Linked DNA regions of Homo sapiens: region 2 is linked to region 1. A link means that fine-mapping ties the variant in region 1 to the expression of a gene that starts in the linked region. Tissue or cell type: whole blood. Region 1 holds a variant in brackets; the other region holds the start of a gene. All regions are shown on one strand. Distances are between the middles of the regions. Region 1 overlaps ABAT (4-aminobutyrate aminotransferase). Region 2 holds the start of ABAT (4-aminobutyrate aminotransferase).

Region 1 (12,608 bases):
CAGCATGTCAATGAGATGCTGGGGTCACTGAGCTGGGGAGGGGGTTCTCGAGGCAGGTGTGTTGGAGGGCACCCACTGGGGTGGGAGTTGATGAGGAGTAAGAAGGCAGGGATTAGCTCTTAAACCCTCAGTCCTAGAGTTGGCATGGCCTTTTAAGAATTACAAGTTCCTCAAAAAGTTAAGCATAGAATTACTACTACATGACCCAGCAATTCCACCCCTAAGTACTAGGTTGGTGCAAAAGGAAATGACCTTTGCATCAACCCAAAGAACTGAAAACAGAGACTCAAACAAATACACATAGCAGCACTATTCACAAGCGCCGAAAGGTAGAAAAAGCCCAGATGTCGATCAGTGGATGAATGAATAAACAAAACATGGTCTATCCTTACAACGAAATATTATTCAGTCATAAAAAGGAATGAAGTTCTGACACATGCTACAACATGGATAAATCTCAAAATATTTTTTATGCTATATGAATGAATGCAGAGGTAAAATGCCCCATAGTCTACGAATCCATTTATAGGAACCTTCAAGAGTAGGTGAATCTACAAAGACAGAAAATAAATCAGGGGTTGGCAGGGGCCTGGGAGGAATGAGAGATGACTGCTTAATGGGTACGGGGGTCTCCGGGGTGATGAAAAAAATCTGGAATTAGATAGCGGTGGTGGCTGCACAGCATTGTGGATGTTCTAAAAGGGTCTGAGTTTTCACTTAAAAAGGTTAATGTTATGTTTATCTTAATAAAAATGAAAAAGCCAGGCGCGCTGGCTCACGCCTATAATCGTAGCACTTTGGGAGGCCGAGACGGGTAGATCACCTGAGGTCAGGAATTCGAGACCAGCCCGACCAACATGGAGAAACCCCGTCTTTACTAAAAATACAAAATTAGCCGGGCGTGGTGGCAGGCGCCTGTAATCCCAGCTACTTTGGAGGCTGAGGCGGGAGAATCGCTTGGACCCGGGAGGCGGAGGTTGCGGTGAGCCGAGATGGCGCCACTGCACTCCAGCCTGGGCAACAGAGTGAGACTCCATCTCAAAAAAAAAAAAAAGAAAAAAGAGATATTGGAGTTGGCTGTCTTTTGTAGATGGGAAGGGAGAGGACCAAAGAAGTGTGTGTAGAGTAATGACACACTCTGATCACACAGACTTATTCTTCAATTTCCACCTGCTACAGGCTGTGTGACCCCAAGATTGCCATTGTTTTTTTTTTTTTTTTTTTTTTTGTTTTTTTTTTTTTTCCTGAGACAAGGTCTGGCTCTATTGCCCAAGCTGGAGTGGAGTGGTGCCATCTCAGCAACCTCTGGCTCCCAGGCTCAAGTGATCCTCCCATCTCAGCCTACCGAGTAGCTGGGACTATAAGCACATGCCACCACACCTGGCTAATCTTTGTATTTCTTTTTTGGAGAGATGGGGTTTCACCATGTTGCCCAGGCTGATCTTGAACTCCTGGGCTCAAGCAGTCCTCCCACCTTGGCCTCCCAAAGTGCTGGGATTACAGGTGTGAACCACCATGCCTAGCTGAGAGAAGCTAATTTTCTGTGCAGTATTGAAATGGCAAATAAATGTTACAACACGTGCCAGTGCTGGCCAATGAGTATTGCCTATTTGGAGCAGCGAACAAAAAGATTTTACGGCCTCTTTTAGCTTTACTTATTTTTTATTTTTCATTATTTTTTGACCTGTTAGCAGGAAGCACTCTTTTAGGTTTTCAGGGGAAAAAATGTGATAGATTAGTGATGTCTGTTATGTGCACCATAATAGATAATTAAGATATGTGGGTTGTGCATGGAGGTGGTATTTGAGCCTGGGTTTTAGAATATAAAGCTTGGGGCTGGGCGCAGTGGCTCACACTTGGAATCCCAGCACTTTGGGAGGCTGAGGTGGATGGATCACCTGAGGTCAGGAGTTCAAGACCAGCCTGGCCAAAATGGTGAAATCCTGTCTCTACTAAAAATATAAAAATTAGCCATGCATGGTGGCGTGCACCTGTAATCCCAGCTACTGGGGAGGCTGACACAGGATAATTGCTTGAACCCGGGAGGTGGGGGTTGCAGTGAGCCTAGATCATGCCACTGCACTCCAGCCTGGGCGACAGAGCAAGACTCCGTCTCAAAAAAAAAAAAAAAAAAAAAAAAAAAAAAATATATATATATATATATAAAAAGCTTGGATCCAAACCACTGCCCTATCTTAGGTACTTGTACAACAGGGTGAAACTTACAAAAATGCTCTGAGCCTCAGTTTCCTGATTTGTAGATTGGAGATAGTGATGCCTCTCTCACTGCAGGGTTGCGCTGGGAATTAGGGATAATGGATGAACACATCCTGGACAATCATAGGCACACAAGTCATTTGCATTTACTCTGTCTCTGACTTGCTCCTGTCTTATACTTGCTGCTGAAGATGTAGTCATTGATTCTAGAGCCCTATGGTCTGAGATCCCTGGAGATTTCTGGAGTTGCCAAGGAAAGAGGCCCCACAGATAGGCAGACTTTCCCTGCAGGCTTGCACTGGAAACCCCAGATGCAGGCTGCCACAAGGGAAGGCTCTCTTTCTTGGTACAGAAGCCTGAAGCACCAATGATGATAGAAGGGAGCTGGGTGCCCAGGGTTCCAGTATATCCCTGCTGGTGCACAAGTCTCCAACATGCTCTGGTCCAACTTGCCATCATCCTTCTCCTGGATGAAGGCAATGATATCCTAAATAGCCTCTCGGCTTCCTCTCTTTATTTTTTTGAGAGACACGATCTTACTCTGTCACCCAGGCTGGAGTGCACTGGTGTGATCTTGGCTCACTGTAACCTCTGCCTCCCGGATTCAAGTGATTCTCCTGCCTCAGCTTCCTGAGCAGCTGGGATTACAGGGGCACGCCACCACACCTGGCTAATTTTTGTATGTTTTGTAGAGACAGGGTTTCACCATGTTGGCTAGGCTGGTCTTGAACTCCTGACCTCAAGTGATCCCTCGGCCTCCCAGAGTGCTGGAATTACAGGCATGAGCCACCTTGCCTGGCTGGATCACATTGTTTCTAAGGCCCGTTCGGACTCTAAGAAACACCTGACAAGCGTGCTAAGAGTTCCATATTACTGAGAATTTGCCACAGCATTTTCCCCAAGCCTTGCTCCTACCTCGAAGTTGCATTAGTATATCCCTCTTTGATTCTACCAGGCCCTTTGCAATCCGCTAGACCCTGGATGGGCGCATCTGGGGAAAGAAGCAGGTGAAGGATTCCTGGTTAGAAGGGAGGTGCTTTCAGAGCACTGGCACGCCATGAAATTGTGACCAAGGAGGTTGGAGAAATCTGAAAATCTGAAGTTACAGCAGGCTGGTTGTTGGCCCTCCTGGTCTCTGAGACCCCCAATCTCCCCCATGCATTTCCCGAACCTCAGTTCTTGGCATACTACCCTTCCTTTGAGCTCTTATGTCTCATATGACTTGTGTTGACTTAACATTTTTCTTGAAATCAACTTGCTTTTTCAATTTAAAAAAGTAATTTTCCTAGGATCCTTTCCAATTGCTACCTTCTGGCCAGGTGTGGTGGCTCATGCCTGTAATCCCAGAATTTTGGGATGCCGAGGCAGATGGATCAGCTGAGGCCAGGCGTTTGAGACTAGCCTGGCTAACATAGTGAAACCCCTGTCTCTACAAAGAAAAATATAACAAATAAAAAAACCTAATTGCTATCTTCCCCCGTCAAGTTTTATTTGCTACGAAGGCAACTAGGAAAAGAACATAATAAAATCAAAGCAAGTTATTCAATTAAAAGCCGGACAGAGTGGACCGCCCAAGGCTATAGCCCCAGGCCTGGCCCCCTCCTTTCCCTAGAGACTGGCAGAGAGCAGACAGGTGTTAAAGGCAGGCTGGCATCACATGGGGACCTTTTCCTTGACATGATCAGAACTGAAAGAGAAATTTAAATCCATCAGTAAATCAAACAGAATAGGAATTGTCAGGGTACATAGCAAATGCTGGTAATTTTTGTTTCAGCTGTGCAGTGGGCCTGAAGTAAGTTCTATTCCTTACTGTGTGTCTCAGTCAAAACAAGTCAAAACCCTGGTCTAGCCAGATAGTGAGCTCTTCAGTCCCACCCACCTCTCCTCGTCCTTTTTCTTTTGATTAAAATGCAAATTAGCTCTCTCTGCTTCCTTCGTGTGTCTGGTGCATTGCGGGGAGGGGCGAGATGAGCTAAGAGGCCGAGTTCAATGTTTAAATCAGTAAAAGTGAGAGGAATTCAGGTGAAAGTGGAAACAAACTCTTCCAATTTGCTCTGGAGAAAGAATAATCATAGTAAAAGTACCAGCTCCCATTTATTTACTTACTGTTCACCTACCACATGCAATAGACCTTCCATAGATCCTTTCGGTAATCTGCAGGATTGGCTGGCGTTATAAAACCGGTTCAGAAGCCTAAAAGGCTTGTTCAAGGTCTTAGAGCTCAAAAGCCAGAAATTTCTAGCGTTGGCTGCACCTGACGCTCGCTCACCAGAAGCTTACACTTGTGTCAAAGCCCCACCCAGACTAAGTAGGTCTGAGTCTCACAGGTGTGACCTGGGCACCGGGGGAAGCTCTGGAGGCTCGGAGGCTGAGAACTACTGTTAATTACCATAAAGAGTGGACGGTGGGCCCTGCATATGACCACAGGACTTCATGATCCTCAAATCCCTGGAACTGGAGGTCAAACATCCCATGGATACAGGGAGAAAAAAGCCTGTGGAGGCAGAGTGTGAGGTGCTGGATATGAAACTGCTTCTTCCCTGCATCTCCCCAATCTTGCATCCTTCAAAATGATCTTACCCCCAGACTAGACATCCCTGGCCTCTCACTGACCCGCCGTATAACCTCAGGCACATTAAGTAACGTCTCTGTGCCTCAGTTTCCTGATCTGTAAAATGGGAGTAATAGCAATTGGAACTATTTTGTGGGCTGGCAGAAGTCCTTACTGTTTCCCCAGCCCCAGAGCAGTGCCTGCCTGCAAACAATCATTGAATAAACAGTAAATGCTCAACAAGCAGCCTATGAAGATGGCGTCTGACTCACCTTTCTACTCCGCTGCTTCCCAGGTCCTGTGAACACGAACTCTTTGCATGCATCATCGGCTAGAAATGGACCCCCCAGATCTCTCTAGAAAAGACCCTGCCTCTCATTTTCCTATCAGCCGTTGGGACCAAGACAAAAGTGCTGGCAGACGCTGAGGACATTCCTTTCCCGTCTGCAGCCCCAGCTGCTGGCTTCTCTGCAGACTCAAAGGGACACAAAGACACACTCAGCCAAGTGCACTTCAGTTGTCAAGGCCAGGGGTTGCCATAGCAACCCATAAAGCCGGAGCCGTGGGCCTGTGCAGATGGGGTTAACAGGGCCCCATTCAGGGGCAGTGGCACAGGGACAGAGGCTTTATCTCACATCCACTTTTCTCCTCCGACTTCAGCTGCAACAGCCTCTTCTGACTTTCCCCTCCGCATGGGCCCCAGCCCTCTCTCCCTGCAGGCATGACTTCCTATCACCTGCCTCTTGGGCATCATAAAATTATCAGTGACTTGTATAGGGAGACAGAAATACTGTTCTTGGAAACAGGCAAATGTCCATTCCTAAGAAAGACTGAGAATGATGTGGGGAAAGTAACAAGAGCCAGAAATTGGGTCTAAAGTGTGGCTGGGCCATATATATTACCTAGGCAAGTTGCTGAACTCATCAGTGCCTTAGTTTCTGCATCTGTAAAATGGGAAGAATGAAATCTATTTGTGGGGTCAGGAGGCACTCAACTGGCTTAGGGTCAATTGAAGAAAGTACATAGGATGTGGAAGAGATGCCTGTTGCAGGCCATTTTCTGTTTCCAAAGAGCTCTTTAAAATTGTGCATTTTGGCTGGGCGCGATGGCTCACGCCTGTAATCCTAGCACTTTGGGAGGCCGAGGCAGGCAGATCACCTGAGGTCAAAAGTTCGAGACCAGCCTGGCTAAAATGGTGAAGTCCCAACTCTACAAAAAAATACAGAAATCAGCTGGGCGTGGTGGCAGGTGCCTGTAGTTCCAGCTACTTGGGAGGCTGAGGCAGGAGAATTGCTTAAACCTGAGAACCGAATGTTGCAGTGAGTAGAGGTCGTGCCACTGCTCTCCAACCTGGCGACAAGAGTGAAACTCCATCTCAAAAATAAGTAAACGAGTAAACAAAAATTGTGAACAACTTCTTTTTTTCCTTCTCCTTCTCCTCCTCCTCCTCCTTCTTTCTTCTTCTTTTTTTAGACAGGGAGAGACAAGGTCTCACTACGTTTCCCAGGCTGGACTTGAAGTTAGTAAAGGCACTTCTTCTATGGCCTGATGAGCTGCTAAAGACTATTGGCACATGCGGTGGTCCTGCTACCAGCCTCAACATCCAGATTTCATGAGAAAGAAGCTGATCTGCCTCATCCTCATGCTCCTGTCTCAGAGTCCTCTCTGCCCACCTCAATCAGGAATCCAGGGAGAACGAACACATCGTTGCTAGCAGGCAGGTAGTTACCCAGCCTGTGAAAAAACTGGAGAGAAAAATGAACAGACAGGGCTTCACATCCAAGCCTCCGAATGTGAGACACAGATAGCCTTTGTTCTGGAGGTAGGAAATAATATGGAAAGAAACATCTGCAAAAGGATAAGCTAGCTTTGGATTTCTGATCCTACAAGGGAGGAGGAGTGAAAGAATGGAATTGGCTTAGAAAGGATGCTTGGACCCATGCTGAAGTAGCTACCCGGGCCAACGCCACAGAAGGTCCGGCTTGTAAAATCTGTTTGTTCAGTTCAATAAATGCTTTCTGCACACCTGTGCCGAGCCCCAGAGATTCCTCAGTAAACAAGGACACGTCCTGCTGTGTTCTGTGGGATCTCGTGTTCCCGTGGGGAGGCCCAACAAGCAACAAACAAATCAGGTCGGTGTGATTGGAGGAAACGCACTTCCCGTTCAGAGAAAACAAACCACTTTCACGGACTCCAGAAACCGCTAAGTACGCAAAAATCACAGCGTATAACAAGTGAAACATTTATATTTCCTTCAAGGACCACACAGCTCCAGACTTGGAAACACTTTGTTGGTGGCTGGAGTCACGCTGTGTGCCTGGCAGCATTCCTACATGCACTTGCAAAGACCTTAACTTTTCTGTAATTCAAAGTATCTTTCATTTATGCCTGTGTGTGCAGGTATCTGCTCTGATTTTACGAATGAATGCCAATCGTGTCAAGGTTTCACATACACCGTCTTATCTACTCCTGGGAGGCAAATACTTCTATTCCTGTTGTTCTCTAAAACCCTGCCCCCTGACTGAGGCTGCCATTTAGGGGTCATCTTCCCAGAGGCAGGGGCTGGCTCAGGGGACCTCAGAGACCAGCTCTGGGAAGCATGTACCTGGAGGGTGCCCTCCATTTCCAGGGTCCAGAACGGTGTCTGGCTATTGTAGGTGCTCAAAAACACTTGTTGAATTCAATCATGGAGTTTCAGCCCTATACTCTGACAACTACAGGAACTGAACTGAAAAGCAACCTCTGAGTCCCATCCGTCAGATTAATGCAATGTTTCTCAAACTTTTTTTCATTGCCATTCCCCTAAAGATTCTTTATTAGCTACATACCCCATGAAATTTTAATTCCACAGATAAATTGTACATCTGCTTATGTATTGTATTTTATATCTGTACTTTATTCATAAAGAGTAAGATTTCTTTTCTTTCCCATAAATGTTCACTCTCTTGGGAATACTGATCCCACTAAGAATGCAGGGATTAAGCGCACACCTGCCATGTGCCAGTTGCTGGGTTGGACATTTGTTCTGCTTCATCTTATTCCATTCTTGCAACAGTATTACACAGTATGCATCATCAGCGCTATGAGACTGAGGATGAGACTGAGGTTCAGAGAGGGTTGTGGCTTATCCTGTGTCACACAGCTTGTCAACGGCAGAGCCAGTCTTCAAACTCGGGTCTGTGAGGCTTTAAAGCTAGTGCTGTTCTGTTTCCTTGCACAGAGAAATAACATGCCCAAGCTCACCTCATGGAGAAGAGGTGACCTGGGACCTGATGTGTAATCCCAGCA[T/C]GTTGGGAGGCCAAGGTGAGAGGATCGCTTGAGCCCAGGAGATTGAGATCAGCCTGGGTGACAGAGCGAGACCCCATCTCTAAAAGAAAAAAAAAAAGAGGTGATTTGGGATTTTAATTTAATTCTTAAATTAGTCCTTCTGATTCCAACTTCAGTTTCTTTTTACCCAATACGTTGCCTCAAAAATATCTTTAGGCTACTTGACAAACTCACTGGGTATAAAAATCAGTGTCTTGGACTATCTTAAGAGAGAAAGGAACAGAAAAGAAGGAACAGAAAGAGGTGCCTGATGGATTGATTGGGAGACTCTGGTCTAAGCTACAGCACCAGGGCCAGTGTGTATTAATGTAACTTAGAAATCAATTCACTGCACTGTCACCTGCTGGTCTGGTTTGGTTTGGAGTCACAATGAAGGCACAGGTAGTATGCTCTAAGACAGTACTGCCCAAAAGAAATATAACACAAGCTTTCAATGCAAACCACATAGGTAATTTTACATTTTCTGGTAGCCATATGAAAAAAGCAAAAACAGCTGAAACCAATTTTTTTCATGTATCTTATTTAACCCATTGTATCTAAAATGTAATAATTTTGATACATAATCAATATAGTTATTATTATTACTTTTGAGATGGAGTTTTGCTCTTGTTGCCCAGGCTGAAGTGCAGTGGCACAATCTCGGCTCACTGCAACCTTCGCCTCCCAGGTTCAAGCGATTCTCCTGCCTCAGCCTCCCGAGTAGCTGGGATGACAGGTGTGTGCCATCACTCCTGGCTAATTTTTGTATTTTTAGTAGAGACAAAGTTTCACCATGTTGGTCAGGCTGGTCTCAAACTCCTGACCTCAAGTGATCCACCCGCCTTGGCCTCCCAAAGTGCTGGGATTACAGACGCGAGCTACCGTGCCCGGCCATCAATATAGTTATTAATAAGATATTTTGCATTTCTTTTTCGGATGTGTGCTAAGTCTTCAAAATCTGGTGTGAATTTCACACTCACAGCACATCACAGTTTAGAATAGCCACGTCTCAGATGCTCAATGACCAGATGTGATGAACGGCTACTGTACTGGCCTGTGCGGGCTGACGCATTGCATCAGAATTGGAGTGTGGTCACAGGAACATACAATCTGACCTGCTGAAATGCCACGGCCTGCCTGGGCCTGTCTGCTGCAATGACGTAGGCACAAGTAGTTTAGTCTAGGAGAGGCTCTCAACGGGATCCAATAAAAAGGGAGAGCAGACAGGGCTGGCTACATGATGTGTGGGACCCAGTGCATAAAATAAATATTCGAGGCCCCTTGTGAGAAAATGGTTACGAATTGCAAGTCAGTGACATGGGGGGATCTTCTGAACACGGGACCCTGTGTGACCATATAGATCACAAACCCATGAAGCACGCCCTGGGTACAGAAGAAAAAACACCCTTCAGGTTTCCCCATCACTGGCCAAGGTGAGGGTGCTGGGATCACGACTGCAGCAACAAATACAATTAGCAGCAGCAACAGCAGACACTTGCTCAGCGCTTACTTTAGGCCAAACCCTGTTCTAAGTTCTTTATATATCATAATACCCATCAGAACAACCTTCTGATATTATAATTATCCACTCGTAGCAAAAAAAAGAAAAAAGGAAACAGATCACAGAGAGGTTAAGTGATTTGCCCGACATCACACAGCCATGTAGTATCTTTAGTACTAAATTTCACAAAACAGGGGGTGGGGGCATAATGTGGCCTGGGCTTACAACTAGCTGTGCCTCTGTTTTCTCCACTGGAAAATGGGTGTGATAGAGCTCTCCCATCCCCAAGCTGCTCTGAGGATGAAATGAGATAATCCACGCGCAAAGCTAAGCAGAGTGCCCAGCCTGGGCACTGGAAAATCTTCAGACCCACATAAAAGTTATGAACATAGTTCCACAGCCGCTTGTAATCCTCGAAACTGTTAACATTTTGCCACACTCGTGCCCACTCTATTATCTGTCTTCTGAATTATTTGAGTTAGTTGTGGACATTGTGATATTTCATCCTTGAATCCTTCAGCCTGTATCTTCTAAGAACAAGAATGTTCTCTTACATAACCTCAGTACAAATGATCTGAGATACAAAGTCACTCTCATGAAGGTACCATTAATAAAATACTATTATCTTTTTTTAATTTATTTATTATTGGCATATTCATGACATAAAAATACTATAAATACTATTATCTAACATACAATCTATATTCAGATATTCCCACTTATCCCTAAAACTTCTTTAATTGTTTTTTTTTTTTTTTTTTTTTTTAGAGACAGGGTCTCGCTCTATCACCTAGGCTGGAGTGCAGTGGCATGATCATGGCTCATGGCTCACTGCAGCCTCGAACTCTTGGGCTCAGGTGATCCTCTTGCCTCAGCCTCCTGAGTAGCTGGGATCACAGGCACACACCACTATGTCTGGTTAGTTTATTTTTATATTTATTTTTTGTAGAGATGGGGTCTCCCTATATTCCTGAGGCTAGTCTCTAACTCTTGACTTCAAGTGATCCTCCTCCCTCGGACTCCCAAAGCACTGGGATTACAGGTATGAGCCACTGAGCCCAGCCCACAAGTGTTTTCTGTTCCCCTGATCCAGGCTTCATCCTAGGATCAAACATTGCATTTGGGCTCATGGCTCTTTAATCTCTTTTAACCTGGAACCATTTCTCAGCCCTTTTGCCTTTTAAAAGACATTGGCGTTTTAGGAATCCCAGCCAGTCATTTTGCATGTAGTTGCGTGAATAGTCTTCTTTATGTCCTTGCAAAATGAAGTGCAGCTCACGGGCAAATGTGGAGAAAGAGGTCGGTTGGACATGTGATGTCAGAGGGTCCAAGTGATTTCTGCAGGTAGAGGAGGGCGTATAGTGTTAGCTGTTCTTGGGTGGAAGTTAAAGATTTCCGGGAAGCAGTGACGGGATGTTTAACGATAATTAGAGCTTGGCAGGTAGACAAGGGCAGTCGTGGCAGACAGAGGCCAGGGTAGGGGAAGGGGGATGGCAGCCCGGAGGAAATGCAGGCAGCAGCAATGTGTCTGAGGGTGAGCGTATCGCGTGTGATCGGGTCTGTTCCTATTTGAACTGGAAACTCCCTGAGGCCAGTCCTTGTCTCCGGCTCTGTCCTCTCCGCCAGGGTGCCCAGTGCCTACTCCAGAGTCAGGGTTCACTTAGAGCAACCGGCTGCCAAGTTTCCCAAATACCCAGGGACATGCAAAGCACAGAGGACCCCCTTCCTCCGGCAGCGGCCTGGCTGCCAGCTTGCACACACCAACTGCAGGATCTTCAGCGCCAACCTTTCAGGATTCCCACATCTTGCCCTGCAAATGAAATTGCATTTTCTAAAATTGCTTTCTTCTGGTTGCCTCTTGGGGCATAGGCTGCTTCTGGGAAAAAATTCAAAATGAACTTCTAATCAGCCACAAGATGTGAAGAGAGCGGCTGTCCAGAGCTTCCTGACATCTACTCTTGGCGTGAGCCGCCCTGGCTGTCAACTGAGATTCTCACTGCAAACTCTATCTGAAATGCCCAGTGACAGCGCCCCCTGAGCCTTCCATTCCCCTGAGTTTCAAAGAGAAAGGGGTGTGTGTGTTTGTGCTGTTCTTGTCCTTAGAACGAAGGGAAAGGATTTATTTAGCGGCTTGAACAAAAATGCCTTTTCAAGGTGACCCTCACTTCATTTCCTAGGACCAGATGCAGGCGGACTGTGGTGTTGCAAGCCTATTGATAAGAGCAATTCCTTATCTCATCATTTCTATATCCATCTTTCATTATTTTGTCCCCACTTTAAAGGGTCTCCTCCTGCTGTGTTCACAAAGTGTCCTTGAAAAATCTGTTAAGTACATTTGTGTGTCCTACACACAGAGAGCCAGGCACATGTGCACGCATGTACACAGATGCACAAGGGTGTGTGCCCCCCCGACCTGCACACCCCAACACCACAGATAACAGGCACTGACAGACACTGGCACCACCTCCCCATGGCAGCAAATACATACACATGTAAGGATGCACACAGAGACACACATACACATTTGCACTCACGGTGCCTGGTAGTCGGAGTCCTGCGGCGAGCTCAGCTCGCTTGCTTAAAATGCCTTCTGTATGCCATTCTGCAGAGGCCAGGAACGCAGCTGGCTGGGTTCATCCTAAGAGGTGCCGTTGGGCACCAGCTCCCTCCTCAGGAGGGTGTCCCGGATTTCCAGGCAGTCCCCAAAACATGGGGACAGGTGGAGGAGACAGAAAAGGGCCCCTTGGAAGCAGAGCAGGTTTGGGAAAAGGATGCACTCAGCTGGTACCCGGCAAGTGCGCAAGGGAGAGGGACGGAGGGAAGGTGAAGGAGGAGGGGAAAGACAGAATGTGAGAGACTGAAAGATGGATTCAGAAAGACAAGGGTTTTCAGACAGAAACAGGATGCAACTACACAGAAACAAAGATTAACAGAGGCAGAAGGAGAGCGATAAACAGAGAGAAAAAAATAGAATACAGATTTTTTTTAAAAGATGTTTTAAGCCCAGCTTGGTTTAAGCCAGAAGGATAAGAC
Region 2 (12,608 bases), 47 kb after region 1:
GTGGCTCACTCACAACTCACTGCAGCCTCAAACTCCTGGGCTCAAGTGATTCTGCCGCCTCAGCCTCCCAAAGTGCTGGGATCGCAGACGTGAGACAAGGTGGCCAGCCCACTTTGCTCATTTTTAATGCATGGGAAGCTGGCGGAGATTTATTTTCTTCTTCTTCCCCCAGGAATATGTTCTCATACATACATACTATCTAGGTCCTTTTAATTCCCCACTTCCCTAACTATCCATGTTCATGCATATTTACATTTAAAAAAAAATAGGATCATACTGGCTATGTTGATTCTGTGACTTTATCTTTTTCACTAAATAATATGACTCAGGAACCTTTCAAGGTCAGGAATGTGGATCCACCTCATTCATCTAAAATCTACTCATTCTCCCACATGAATGCATATACTGTAATCCCTTCCCATACCAGTGTTGCAAGCTCTGCCATGGACATTTTTATGTTATGTCAGTGCAAGTGTGAGCATTTCTGTGTGAGATTTTTCAAAGTGGGATTGCTGGACCAAAGAGCATGCCATTGAAGTTTCGAAAGACCCTGATAACTAATCTGAAGAAGGCCCAGAACTCAGTTGTTTCTCAAACAATTTCTGGCATGGATGTTTCTCTGATGCCTGGTGGAGAAGCGGGTGATGGTCTTAGACAAGTCTTTTAACCTTTGTGAGGCTTAGTTTGCTTATCTGTAGAGTGAGAAACAGTGTCATAGACACAACAGTGCTTTGGAGATGATAAGGTCCTGTGTAGGTTGGGTGCTGTGGCTTATTCCTGTAACTCACACTTGTAACCCCAGCGCTTTGGTTGTAACTCACACTTGTAACCCCAGTGCTTTGGGAAGCCAAGGCGGGAGGATCGCTTAAGCCTAGGAGTTAGAGACCACCCGACTCTGTCTCTACTAAAGAGAAAAACAAAAACCAGACAAGAAAGTCTTGTGTAAATGTGAGAAATTAAAAATTGTTATTAATATTGGAAGGCTCCACAGCTAGACACATCTCCTTCTCCTCATTACACAGAAACCAAAACGAGGAGCTTGTGCAAGAAAGAAGCTGTTTTTGGTTTTTATTTTGTTTTTTTTTGGAGACAGTGTCTCACTCTGTCACCCAGGCTGGAATGCAGTGGTGTGATCATGGCTCACTGCAGCTTCGACCTCCCCGGGCTCAAGCAATCCCCCCACCTCAGCCTCCCAGGTTGCTAGGACTACAGGCGCATGCCACCATGACCAGCTGATTTTTTTTTTCCTGTATTTTACAGAGATGGGGTTTTGCCATGTTGCCCACGCTGGTCTCAAACTCCTGGGCTCAAGCCATCCACCCGCCTCAGCTAGGAAGCTGTTTTATATTAAGTATCAACTATGTTTAAGGCCATGTATTAGACCAGCAGTTCTCAATAGCGAAGGAAAAGGATGATTTTGCTCCCCAGGGCACATCTGGCAATGTCTGCAGACATTTCTGATGGACATGACTCATGGGGTAGGGAGTGTCACTGGCATCTAGTGGGTAGAGACCAGAGGCGCTGCTGAATATCCTACAATACACAGGGGAGTCCCACAACAAAGAATCCTCTGACCCAACTGTCAACAGTGCCCAAAATGAGAACCCCTCATCTAGACCTGTCTCTTTTCTGATGTCCAACCCCAACAAACCTCATTCAAAGACGAGGAACTGAGGTTCAGAGACATGAATGACTTGCCTAAGTTTCCATAGACAGCCACTACCAGTGGCCAACTCTCTACTCCATCTGGCTTCAGGGTCTGTGGTCCATTCCACATACTACACTGTCTCTCTAGGAAGACATCCCCTTGTCCCCAGGCACCTTGGCCCTGGCAGATTATCTACGGCAAGGGTTACAAGTTTTGCCTTAAGGCATAAGCACCTCCCCACTTCATGATTAGAGGTTTTATGACTTTGCACTTGTAATCATTGTTTCTGCTCATTTTGCTGTGTGCTAAACATTTTATGAGGATTAACTCATTTTACCCCAAGGATATGTCACAGAGAGGTTAAGATCAGACACTAAGTGGCAGATTTGTGCTCTCGACCCAGATAAGAGGTCTCCAGGGACCAACCTCTCGGCCTCTCTACCGTGGTCCTCCTCATGCTTTGAACTTCGCCTTGGCAAAGTTGGGGCACAACAACCAATCCTTTAGCTGGGAACTGGGTGGGGGCAGAAACAGAGAGAGCCTCTACTTCAGACCATGCTGCCCAGCTGGGTGGTCCTAGAGAATCTGCCAGAATTTCAGCTCTTTTCCCATGCAATGCCCCAGGAGAAAAGACGCAGGCCTCTGAACAGAGATGAGACAATGTGCAGGGAACTCAAAGCCAGAGGGCGTGGGCAGGGGCTAAGAGGGAGGGGACCTTGGAGGGAAGGAATATGACATCCTCAGGACCTGTCCAAAGTTCTTGGAGCAAACCCAGCTATGCAAGTGAGGTTCCTGCAGTAGCCTCCACTCCAGCATCTCATTCTCATTAGCTGCAACTGATCTTATTAGCTATCCTGGGTCAGTTTGGATTTTGGCAAGCCTAGATTTGGCAATGGCCTCAACACAAAGATCGCACGGGGTAAGCAGGGATGCGCTGACACCCAGGAATGGATTCCACGAGGCAGCCTGCTGGGGGATGGCATTGAGTTCCAGCTCTGCCCCTTCCTGGCTTCATGACCTTTGCAGAGCCTTGGCGCTTCCTCTGACAAGTGGGGACTTGGGACCCAGCAGTCCCCAAGTCCCCATTGTAAATGTGAGGACTGGGGCTTGTGTCAGGGATCCTAGCACCTTAAGGGTCCTGGAGGGGTTGGGGCCAGCTGTCTCCCACAGGCTGGGTGACCTTGAGCAAGTCTCTTCCCCTTTTGTGCCTCTGTGTGTTTAACTGTCAAATGAAGGGGCCACGTCTTTAATGCAGAAGCCCTTTTAGGTCTTAGGACTCCAGACTGGACCATTTACCTCTCCCCGTGGCTAACCTCTTTGGGCCTCGAGAAAACACATTTCTCTATGACTCCACGCCGCAACACAGGCTCCAAAGAGCAAGACACAACTCACTGCCTCCCTCTCTCCTGCCTCCCAACCTGACCCACCAGAGAAGAGCTCTTCCCACCCCCTCCCCACCCCCAGGTCACCAACATCCTGTCCCTTAGTCTAGCTTCATCAAAGCAGCAAAGCCAACACTGTCTCCTCCCCAGTGGATGGGCCCAGCAGCACCCATTTCTCTTGGCTGAGTGCCCAGGGAATTCCACCAGGCAATGTCCACAGGCGCTTGCGGGGGTGCACACTTTAGGGGGGAAATGCGGGCCCTCTTGGAAGAGGGCCAGCTGTCCTCCCAGACTGCAAGAGAGAATGCATTGAACACAGCCTTTGTGCGTGTGTTGGGGCAGGGAGCGGGGGAGAGGTGGCGGGTGGTCTCTGCTGGTCCTGCTGCCTCAGAGGCCATCTCTGTTGTCAGAGTTTGAAGACTCCTGGAAGGGCCTCTAGGCCCCAGATCCCAGTTTTAAGAGCTCCAGTCTTACTAAATCTCGCTGAACCCCCTCTAGTCTTACCTTGGCCAGGGTGGGTGAGGAAAGGTGAGAGGATGTGAAATAGGTGGGGCAGCCAGGTGTGGGAGTGGAGTTGGGGTGAGGTGGAGAAGGATGGGATTGGGAGCGGTGGGAGGATGGTGCAGGGGGTTACTAGGATGGGGTTTGTGTGAAAGGGCTTGGGTGGAGTGGAGGGAGGTGGATGACTTGGAGGGGTGGCCAGACCTTTGCCCTGCTCCTGAGTATGAAGGTCCCTCATTTTACATCTTTACTGGGGAGGAGAGGGGAAATCCCCAAAAGCCTTTAATGTGGTGGTGTCAGAGGCCACCCTGCCTCTCTGACGGGTAGGGAGGGGTCTCCGGCAGGGCTAAGGGTGAATCATCTATCTCTCCAGAGCCCAGTATCTGGGGTGGGAGGGTGACTTGCAGAGTCTCTGCTCCGGGATTTCCTTGTCTTATGATGGGGGGAGAGCTTCCATTTGTCATGGAGGGGGAGGTCACTGTAATTTATAAGCTGAGAAGACCCCCATTATTCCGAAAGAGAGGGGAGAAGGAAGACACCCAAACTTAGTTTTCTAAGGATGGGGAAGGGGCATCAGTCTCCCAAGAGGTGAGGGGGCTCTAGAGACCTGGAGACCACTTTTTGGGGCCGCATTCTATTTCAAGCGGTAAAAGGGAGAGGACTTCTGTCTAGAGCTGGAGCCAGGAGGAAGGGCCCATTTCTGAAGGAGAAAGGAAGGTATTTTGCTCTCTGGGGGGTGGGAGCCCCTGTCTTTTCGGGGGAGGGCCCCGCGTCTTGGGAAGATGAGGGCTCCGTTTCCAGGAGAAGATGCCCAGGTTTTGCTCCTGGGGGCAGGGCAGAAGGACCTCCTCTCGGCTCCCCTCGGAAGGGCCCGTCCCAAGCCACCCGGCGCCTCGCGCTCACCTCCAGGCCCCGTCTCCGATCTGCGGGATCCGATCCGCCGGGTTCCGACTTGCGGGATGCGCGCCCCGAGTTCCGGCAGCGCTGGGTGTCTGCTCGACTTCCCCCAGCGACTCGCCGGACTCCCTGGCTCCGCCGAGCGTCCCGGCCAATCAGCGCCGCCAGCCCCGGCCCTCGCTTTCGCCACAGCCAATGGGTGCGCCCGCCACGGGCCACCGCCCCCAGGAGGGAGGTGGCAGGCGGGGCGGGGGCAGAGTCCAGCCTCCGGGGGCGGGGGAGACGGGGGCTGGGGCGGGACCCACCAGAGGGACCGCGAGGGCTGGGAGGGAGTCCTGGGACTGGGGAGGAGACGGCTGAGGACCCCCGTCAAGTTGTGGGGACCCTGACCCTCTGGGGGGCAGCTCCATAGGTTGATTTAACCTGGATCTTAATGGGCCATTTACACCCTCAGGGCTGCAGGCGAGTGTAACTCCACCTCCACCCGCGTCTCGGATCCGGTCTCTGGAGCTCCAGAGTCGGAATCAGAAGGGGTTCCTTTGCGGAGAAGGGAAGGAGCATCCCGCCCTCCCCACCTCACTCCCCATCTCGGCGCTCAGGGCCCTGCCAGCCCTTCTTGCTCCCAGCTACTTTCCTCCGCCTGGCCCCAGCGCTCCGGAAGACAAACAGGGCGCTGGGAGTCAGAGGTGGTTCCTTCTGCATGACCTGGAGCAGGTCACTGCGCCTCCTGATCCTCAATTTCCTGAAATTGGGACAACAGAGATTGTACCTCCTTCGTGGGTATAAACGAGACCCTAGATATGATGAAGGTGCCTTTCTACCGTTGTATAAAATGCTGTGTGGAAGATAATTAATACTCAGGTGTGACGGATGGATAGCCCCCCCACAGCTTTCTAGAGGTATTTGGAAAGAGGATGCAATCTTTCAGTGACAAAATCAAAGACACAAAGAACTGCTCATCAAGACAACAGGCGATCACCAAGTCCTCATAATGAATGAATGGATGGATGGAGAGTACAGACCTTAAAGGCAGAGAAAGAGTTCAGCTTGGTTCTCCCCACTCACCCTGATCACTGATAACTTGGTCTGTGGAGTCTTGTAGAACCCTGAGGTCTCTCCTCCTGCTGTCCAGGAATCCAGGCTGCCCTATCTCTGATTACACAAGCGCTATAGTCCTTGCAATTAAAGAATTAAGATAAAGTAAACACATAGATAAATAGAAAGCTGCCAAACAAATCATTCACCTCCTAGTGTCACCTCTGGGGACCCTCCCCCCCAACACACACACACACACACACACACACACACACACACACACACAGAGCAGTAAATAAGAATAATTGAGGCCTGGCACAGTGGCTTACGCCTGTAATTCCAGCACTTTGGGAGGCCGAGGCAGGCAGATCACTTGATGCCCAGAGCTCGAGACCAGCCTGGCCATCATGGGGAAACCCCCTTTCTATTAAAAATACAAAAATTAGCCTGGCATGGTGGCACCTGCCTGTAATCCCAGCTACCTGGGAGGCTGAGACATGAGAATCGCTTGAATGGAGAGGCAGTGGTTGCACTGAGGTGAGATGGCACCACTGCACTCTAGCCTGGGTGATTGTCACCTTGCTTGAGGAACTTGATGAGGCCTGTGCTGAAAATCTAGCAATTTTTTCTTAAAACCAAAGCCATGAACATAATCCCCTTTACTACCCTTGACCTGCCCAAAGAAATACAACGGCCAATAAACATGGGAGATGACACTTTGAAAAGGAAAGGCAAGTTAAAACCAAAAGAGGGAAAGAGTTTACCTACCAAAATGACCTTGTTTTTATTATTATAATTACTATTCTTTGCAAAGACTTCAAGGAGTTTCATGTATTGATGATGGCAGTAGAAAGATCACAGCCTTTCTGGAGGGAAATTGGGTATTTCTATTTTAAAAATCTTAAAAGTAAGTTGACCCTTTGATCTAGCAATCCAATCCCTATGAACTTATCTGAAAACATTTAAAGGTACAAAGATTTAATGATAAAGTAGCTTACTACCATTTTGTTTATCACAGGGAAAAACTGGGAACAACTTGAATGCACAACAGCAGGGACTCAGAGGGAAATTGTTGCATGAAATTGAACAATAAACATAGGTATGAAATATTGAATGGGGCTGGGTGTGGTGACACGCCTGTAATTCCAGCACTTTGGGAAGCCAAGGCAAGAGGATCGCTTGAGCCAAGGAGTTCAAGACCAGCCTGGGTAACATAGTGAAACCCTGTCTCTACAAAAAATACAAAAATTATCCGGGCGATGTGGCGCATGCATGTAGTCCCAGCTACTCAGGAGACTGAGGCAGCCTTGAGCCTGGGAGGTTGAGGCTGCTGTGGGCCAAGATTACACCACTGTACTCCAGCTGGGTGACAGAGTGAGACCCTGTCTCAAAAACAAAACAAAACAAATCTCAAAATGTTAAGTTATTTGCAAAAACAGTATATTTGGTACTGTCTTACTTTTTGTTAAACATCTTACTTTTTGTTAAATCTACCAGGTAGAGCTAGATCAATGCTGTGTAATATAACTTTCTATGATGCTCTATATCTGTGCCGTCCCGTGTGGTAGCCACTAGCCACATGGAGGTATTGAACACCTGAAATGACTAATTTTGGTATCCAAGATGTTTAAAAAAAAAAAAGAAAGAAAGAAATAATAAAAAAAGGAAAAGGGAAAAATAAATTTAAAATTTTGGAAAAAGCAATGACTAGTTAACCGAATAACTGTATTTTAATTGTATCTATTTATTTATTTTTTTAGAGACGGAGTCTCGCTCTGTCACCCAGGCTGGAGTGCAGTGGTGTGATCTCAGCTCGCTGCAACCTCTGCCTCCCAGGTTCAAGCGGTTCTCCTGCCTAAGCCTCCTGAGTAGTTGGGATTACAAGCGTGCTCCACCACGCCTGGCTCGTTGTTTAATTTTTTAATTTTTAGTAGAGACAGGGTTTCGTCATGTTGGCCAGGCTGGTCTCAAACTCCTGGCCTCCAGTGATCTGCCTGCCTCAGCCTCCCAAAGTGCTGGGATTACAGGTGTGAACCACCACGCCCAGCCTGTATCTAATTTTAATTTAAGGTGTAACAGTAACAGGTAGCTAGTGGCTATCATATTAAAAGGCACCGATATAGCTAGCTAGCAATGCTGAGTGAAAAACTGTGTTCAGTAGGAGAATGGTTATTTTTGTGTATTGAAATTATAGATTATTCTAATATTACTTTATTTGCATGTCCATGTCAGTAATTTCTTTTTATCCCCTTGGGTTTATTTTTAATAGAGGATAAACTTTACAATGTCACTAATTTCTAATTATTCTGTAATGAATATATATTACTCTGGTACTAAGAAGAAAATATTTAAAATGAAAAACAGAAAGGAAAAGTCTAAACCAAAGGGCCCGGAGTGGTGGCTCACACCTGTAATCCCAGTATTCTGGGAGGCTGAGGCGGGCAGATCACTTGAGGCCAGGGGTTCGAGACCAGCCTGGCCAACATGGCGAAACCCCATCTCTATTTATAAATAATTTTTTTTTAAAAAAGAGTCTAAGCCAAAGGTTGACAAACTATAGCTCATAGACCAAATGTAGTTCATCATGTTTTCCTATGACCATGAGCTAAGATTGGTTTTACATATTAAATGGTTAAAAAAATTCACAAGAAGAATAATGTTATGTGACACATAGAAACTACATAAAATTCAAATTTTACTGTGCATAAATAAAATTTTATGGGAACACAGCCAGGCCTATTTATTTATGCATTGTCTATGGCTGTCTGTGAGCTACAACAGCAGAGCTGAGTAGCTGTGACAGAGACTCTGTGACCTGAAAAGACAACAATATTTACCTTCCAGCCCTTTGCGAAAAATCTGCCGTGTCCTGGTCTAAGGCAATCAAGGGAAATAAGAAGTGTGTGTAGCCATCTTCATTCATCTGTTCATTCATTCATTCAACTAGGTTTTGAGCACCCATTTGTGGGTCAGGCCCTAGGAAAGGGCACTTCTAGAGGATAAAAGGAGCTGCTTTGTCTCTACTTAAGGACTAGGGAGAGAAGGCTATTTAGAGCCAGGTGCTTTGCAAGCTGATTCTCAAATAGCTTCATTGTGATACTTGTGAAGAAAACTGTCAGCATGTGGAAAAAGCCCTTTCCATATTGGCTTCCCTTGCATTTTCTGCCATTCTGCAGTTTTCCTATGGAGCTGCTTGGGGTTGCAGCTGTCTGCCAGGGAATGCAGAGTGTTTCCCAGAGTTTGGCTGAGGCCTGGGATGAAGACTCACCCATACTCTGTGCCTATCAATAAGCTCCTTCCAGAAGCGCAGCTGTAGCTGGGAGGGCCCCCACTGCACTCTGGAGAGGAGAAATGAAAACAAAGGCAAGGGTGAATGAGGCTCCAAGGGTACCAGTTGTCTCCACAGGAGAGACTCTTAGAGATCAGCAGCCCATTGTACAGAAGAGGAGACTGAGGCCCAGAGAGGAGGAATAACTTGTCCAGAGCCAGATTAAAGCACATATTTTATTGACTAGGCCTGTGATTTCCACATCCCTGGTCACAAAATAATAAAGAGATATCATCTATACAAAATAATAAAGGGCATTTTGATGTGGTGGAAAGGGGATCAACTTGGGAGTCAGACCTAATATTGAATTCTAGTTCCAACTCCCAATGGCTATGTGACTCTGGACATGTCATTTACTCCCTCTCAGTCTCTATGTTCTAATCTGTAAATTGAATAAAGTATCTACCACGTTTTCACATGTAAAAGAAAGAAGATAGACGCTTACCTCACACCATATAAAAAAACTAACTCAACATTGGATCAAAGACCTAAATAAATATAAGACCTAACACTATAAAATTCTTAGAAGAAAACATGGGAAGGGGGAACAGGTGCAATGGCTCACACCTGTAATCCTAGCACTTTGGGAGCTCCAAGGCTGCCGGATCACTTGAGCCCAGGAATTTGAGACCAGTCTGGGAAACCTGGCAAAACCCCACTGTTAGAAAAAATACAAAAATTAACCAGGTGTGGTGGTGTGTGGCTGTGGTCTCAGCTACTTAAGAGGCAGAGGTGGGAGGATTGCCTGAACCTGGGAGGCAGAGGTTGCAGTGAGCCAAGGTTGTGCCATTGCACTCCACCTAGCCTGGGTGACAGAGCAAGACTCCATCTCAAAAACAACAGCAACAAAAAAGCATTTTGATTGTACTTAATGCCATTGAATTGTACACTCTAAAATGGTAAAAATTGGTGAATTTTGTGCAATGTGTATTTTACCATAATAAGGAAAAAAGTATGTACCACAGTAGGTCATTGGTTGGGTAAGTAAGGGAAGTTTGCTCCTGGTCCCTGCTGGGCACTGTGCATTAGCCCTGTACATAGTTGTACTAGTTTCACCAAACTATCTGCTTGATTGTGAGAGGTGGGCCAGAGCTCATTCATTCATTTAGTAATTTTTCCATCAATTTGTTCAGTCAACAAATACACATTTAGCACCTACTGCGTGCCAGGCATTGGGGATTGTGGTCCTGACCCCATGGAACTTCCATTCTGCAGCTGGGAGACAGTGTATAAGAAGATGAATGTGTAACTAAGAAAGCTCTTTTCTTTTTTTTTTTTTTTTCTTTTCCTTTCTCTTCTCTTTTCTTTTTTTCTTTCTGTCTTTCTTTCTTTTCTTTCTCTCTCTCTCATTTTTTTCTCTCTTTCTTTTTTTCTCTCTCTCTCTTTCATTCGTTCTTTTTTTTCTTTCTTTTTGAGACGGAGTCTTGCTCTGTCACCCAGGCTGGAGTGCAGTGGCGCTATCTTGGCTCACTGCAACCTCTGCCTCCCCGGTTCAAGCGATTCTTGTGTCTCAGCCTCCCGAGAAGCTGGGATTACAGACGTGTACCACCATACCCAGCTAGTTTTTGTATGTTAAGTAGAAATGGGGTTTTGCCATATTGGCCAGGCTGGTCTCGAAATCCTGGTCTCAAGTGATCTTCCCACCTTGGCCTCCCAAAGTGCTGGGAATGCAGGTATGATCTACTGTGCCCAGCCTAAGAAGCTAATTTCTGATAATAAGTGCTTTAGGGAAATGCAAAATAAGATGATGTTCCTGGGATCAGGGTGGGTACACCAGCCATGATGCTCAGGGAGTTGTCCACAAGGCTGTGACATTTAATCTGAGGCCTGAATGCTAAGAGGAAGGCTTCTATGGGATTATCTTGTGCTTGTTCTCATGCATTTTGGCCCTCGTGCTAGGCTCCTAGAAGACCCAAGGGCTGCCTCCAGCTTTCCTCCTCTGAACATCTCAGGTAATATGGGGAAAGCATGAGAAAGTGAGCCAGGCCCAACAGGCAGCTGCTGCATCTGACACGTCACACACATGTCAGGGCTTTGTTCTGCTGCCATTGTGATGACTGGGACCGCCAGCATTGCCAGCCCAAAGGATGCACGGCAGTGCAGTCCCCCTTCTGGCTCAAGATGTAGTGAAATGACAGGGGAGCTGGGTCATACTGCCACCCCCATGCTCTGCAGGACTTCCTAAAGGCAGAAAGTGAACAACAGACAATTCTCATGCTCAACATGTCAGTGGTGCCGAGCTTGAGAAACCCTGCCTGAGTTAATGTGTATGTAGTTCCAAGAATATAGAAGGAGCTTAGTACATCCTGGGTCCCTTCCTCCTGTGGCTAGAGATACCCTGCCTATTTACCCCAATTCTTCTTGACAATACATGGCTGTGGTATCTCCAGGGATCAGTTGGAGTGTAGCTCCCTCATCGAGACTGATGGAAAAAATAGCTAAACATGTACTTCTTTTCTGAGTTCTTTGATGACTTGACTTCTGACAGTGCTTGGCATGCAGTAGGAGTTCTAGGAATACGTATCAATTTCACTGCATGAAAAGGACAGCAGGATGCTGAGGAAGGACATCTTGGAGAGCTCTTGGGGAGCTCTTGGGGAGCTCTTGGCCCTGAGGCGCTGTCCAGGAACTCTGTGCTGAAACTTTACAGAGGAGGAGAAAACCCCAAAAATGTGGCACATATACACCATGGAATACTATGCAGCCATAAAAAAGAATGAGATCATGTCCTTTTCAGGGACATGGATGAAGCTAGAAGCCATCATTCCCAGCAAACTAACACAGGAACACAAAGCCAAACACCACGTGTTCTCACTCATAAGTGGGAGTTGAGCTGTGAGAACACATGGACACAGGGAGGGGAACATCACACACAGGGGCTTGTCAGGGGATTGGGGGGCAAGGGGAGGGAGATCATTAGGACAAATACCTAATGCACGCGGGGCTTAAGACTTAGATGACGAGTTGATAGGTGCAGCAAACCACTATGGCACATGTATACCTATGTAACAAACCTGCACATTCTGCACATGTATCCCAGAACTTAAAATAAAATAACAAAATAATAAAGAAAATAAAAATTTAAAATAAATAAATAAAACAACTTTATTAATTTTATTAACATAAAAATTTTGTTAAAAGAAAACCTGAACTGAGATTGAACTCTTCCCCACTGAGAAAGCAAGCCCAGGCATCCTTTCTCCCTCTCGTCCTCATCTCTCCTCCCTACAGACAATGGAAGATGAAAATCAGGAGACAGAGCCGGGCGCGGTGGCTCAGGCCTGTAATCCCAGCACTTTTGGGGGCTGAGGTGGGTAGATCAACTGAGGTCAGGAGTTCGAGACCAGCCTGGCTAACATAGTGAAACCCTGTCTCTACTAAAAATACAAAAAACAAAAAAATTAGCTGGGCATGGTGGCAGGTGCCTGTAATCCTAGCTACTAGGGAGGCTGAGGCAGGAGAATCATTTGAATACGAGAGGCGGAGGTTGCAGTGAGCCGAGATGGTACCATTGCACTACAGCCTGGGCAACAAGAACAAAACTCCATCTCAAAGAAAAAAAAAAAAAAAGAAAGAAAGAAAGAAAGAAAAGAAAATCAGGAGACAGCATGGCAGAATGGTTATATCCTCAAACTCTGGAGTTAAAGAGAGTTGGGCTCATATTCTGGCTGTGACGATAAAGAATTACATGACTTTACATAGATGACTTCACTTCTGAGCCTCAGTCCCATCTGTAAAATGGGATGATGATCATAATGTCTGCATCTCAGAGATTTCATGAGTGTTAAGTGGGAGAAGTGCCTTAGAGCACGTAGCA

What was found. PIP is the estimated chance that this variant, and not a neighbour inherited with it, causes the effect.
Region 2: it holds the start of ABAT, and the variant in region 1 is fine-mapped to the expression of ABAT in whole blood (INTERVAL, PIP 0.98).

Annotation. Positions count from the first base shown.
Region 1 is chr16:8,713,367-8,725,974 of GRCh38, reverse strand. The region is part of intron 1 of ABAT (4-aminobutyrate aminotransferase); the gene reads right to left. Among named protein-coding and RNA genes, the nearest start is that of ABAT, 45 kb to the right of the region's middle. RefSeq lists an enhancer at 5,372-5,872. The variant T/C (reference allele first, on the strand shown) is at 8,057.
Region 2 is chr16:8,666,538-8,679,145 of GRCh38, reverse strand. ABAT (4-aminobutyrate aminotransferase) reads right to left here and starts at 4,529. Exons shown (of 16, transcript NM_020686.6): 1 at 4,435-4,529. It also overlaps a transcript of METTL22 not described here. RefSeq lists a silencer at 4,477-4,936 and enhancers at 4,531-5,030, 5,031-5,532.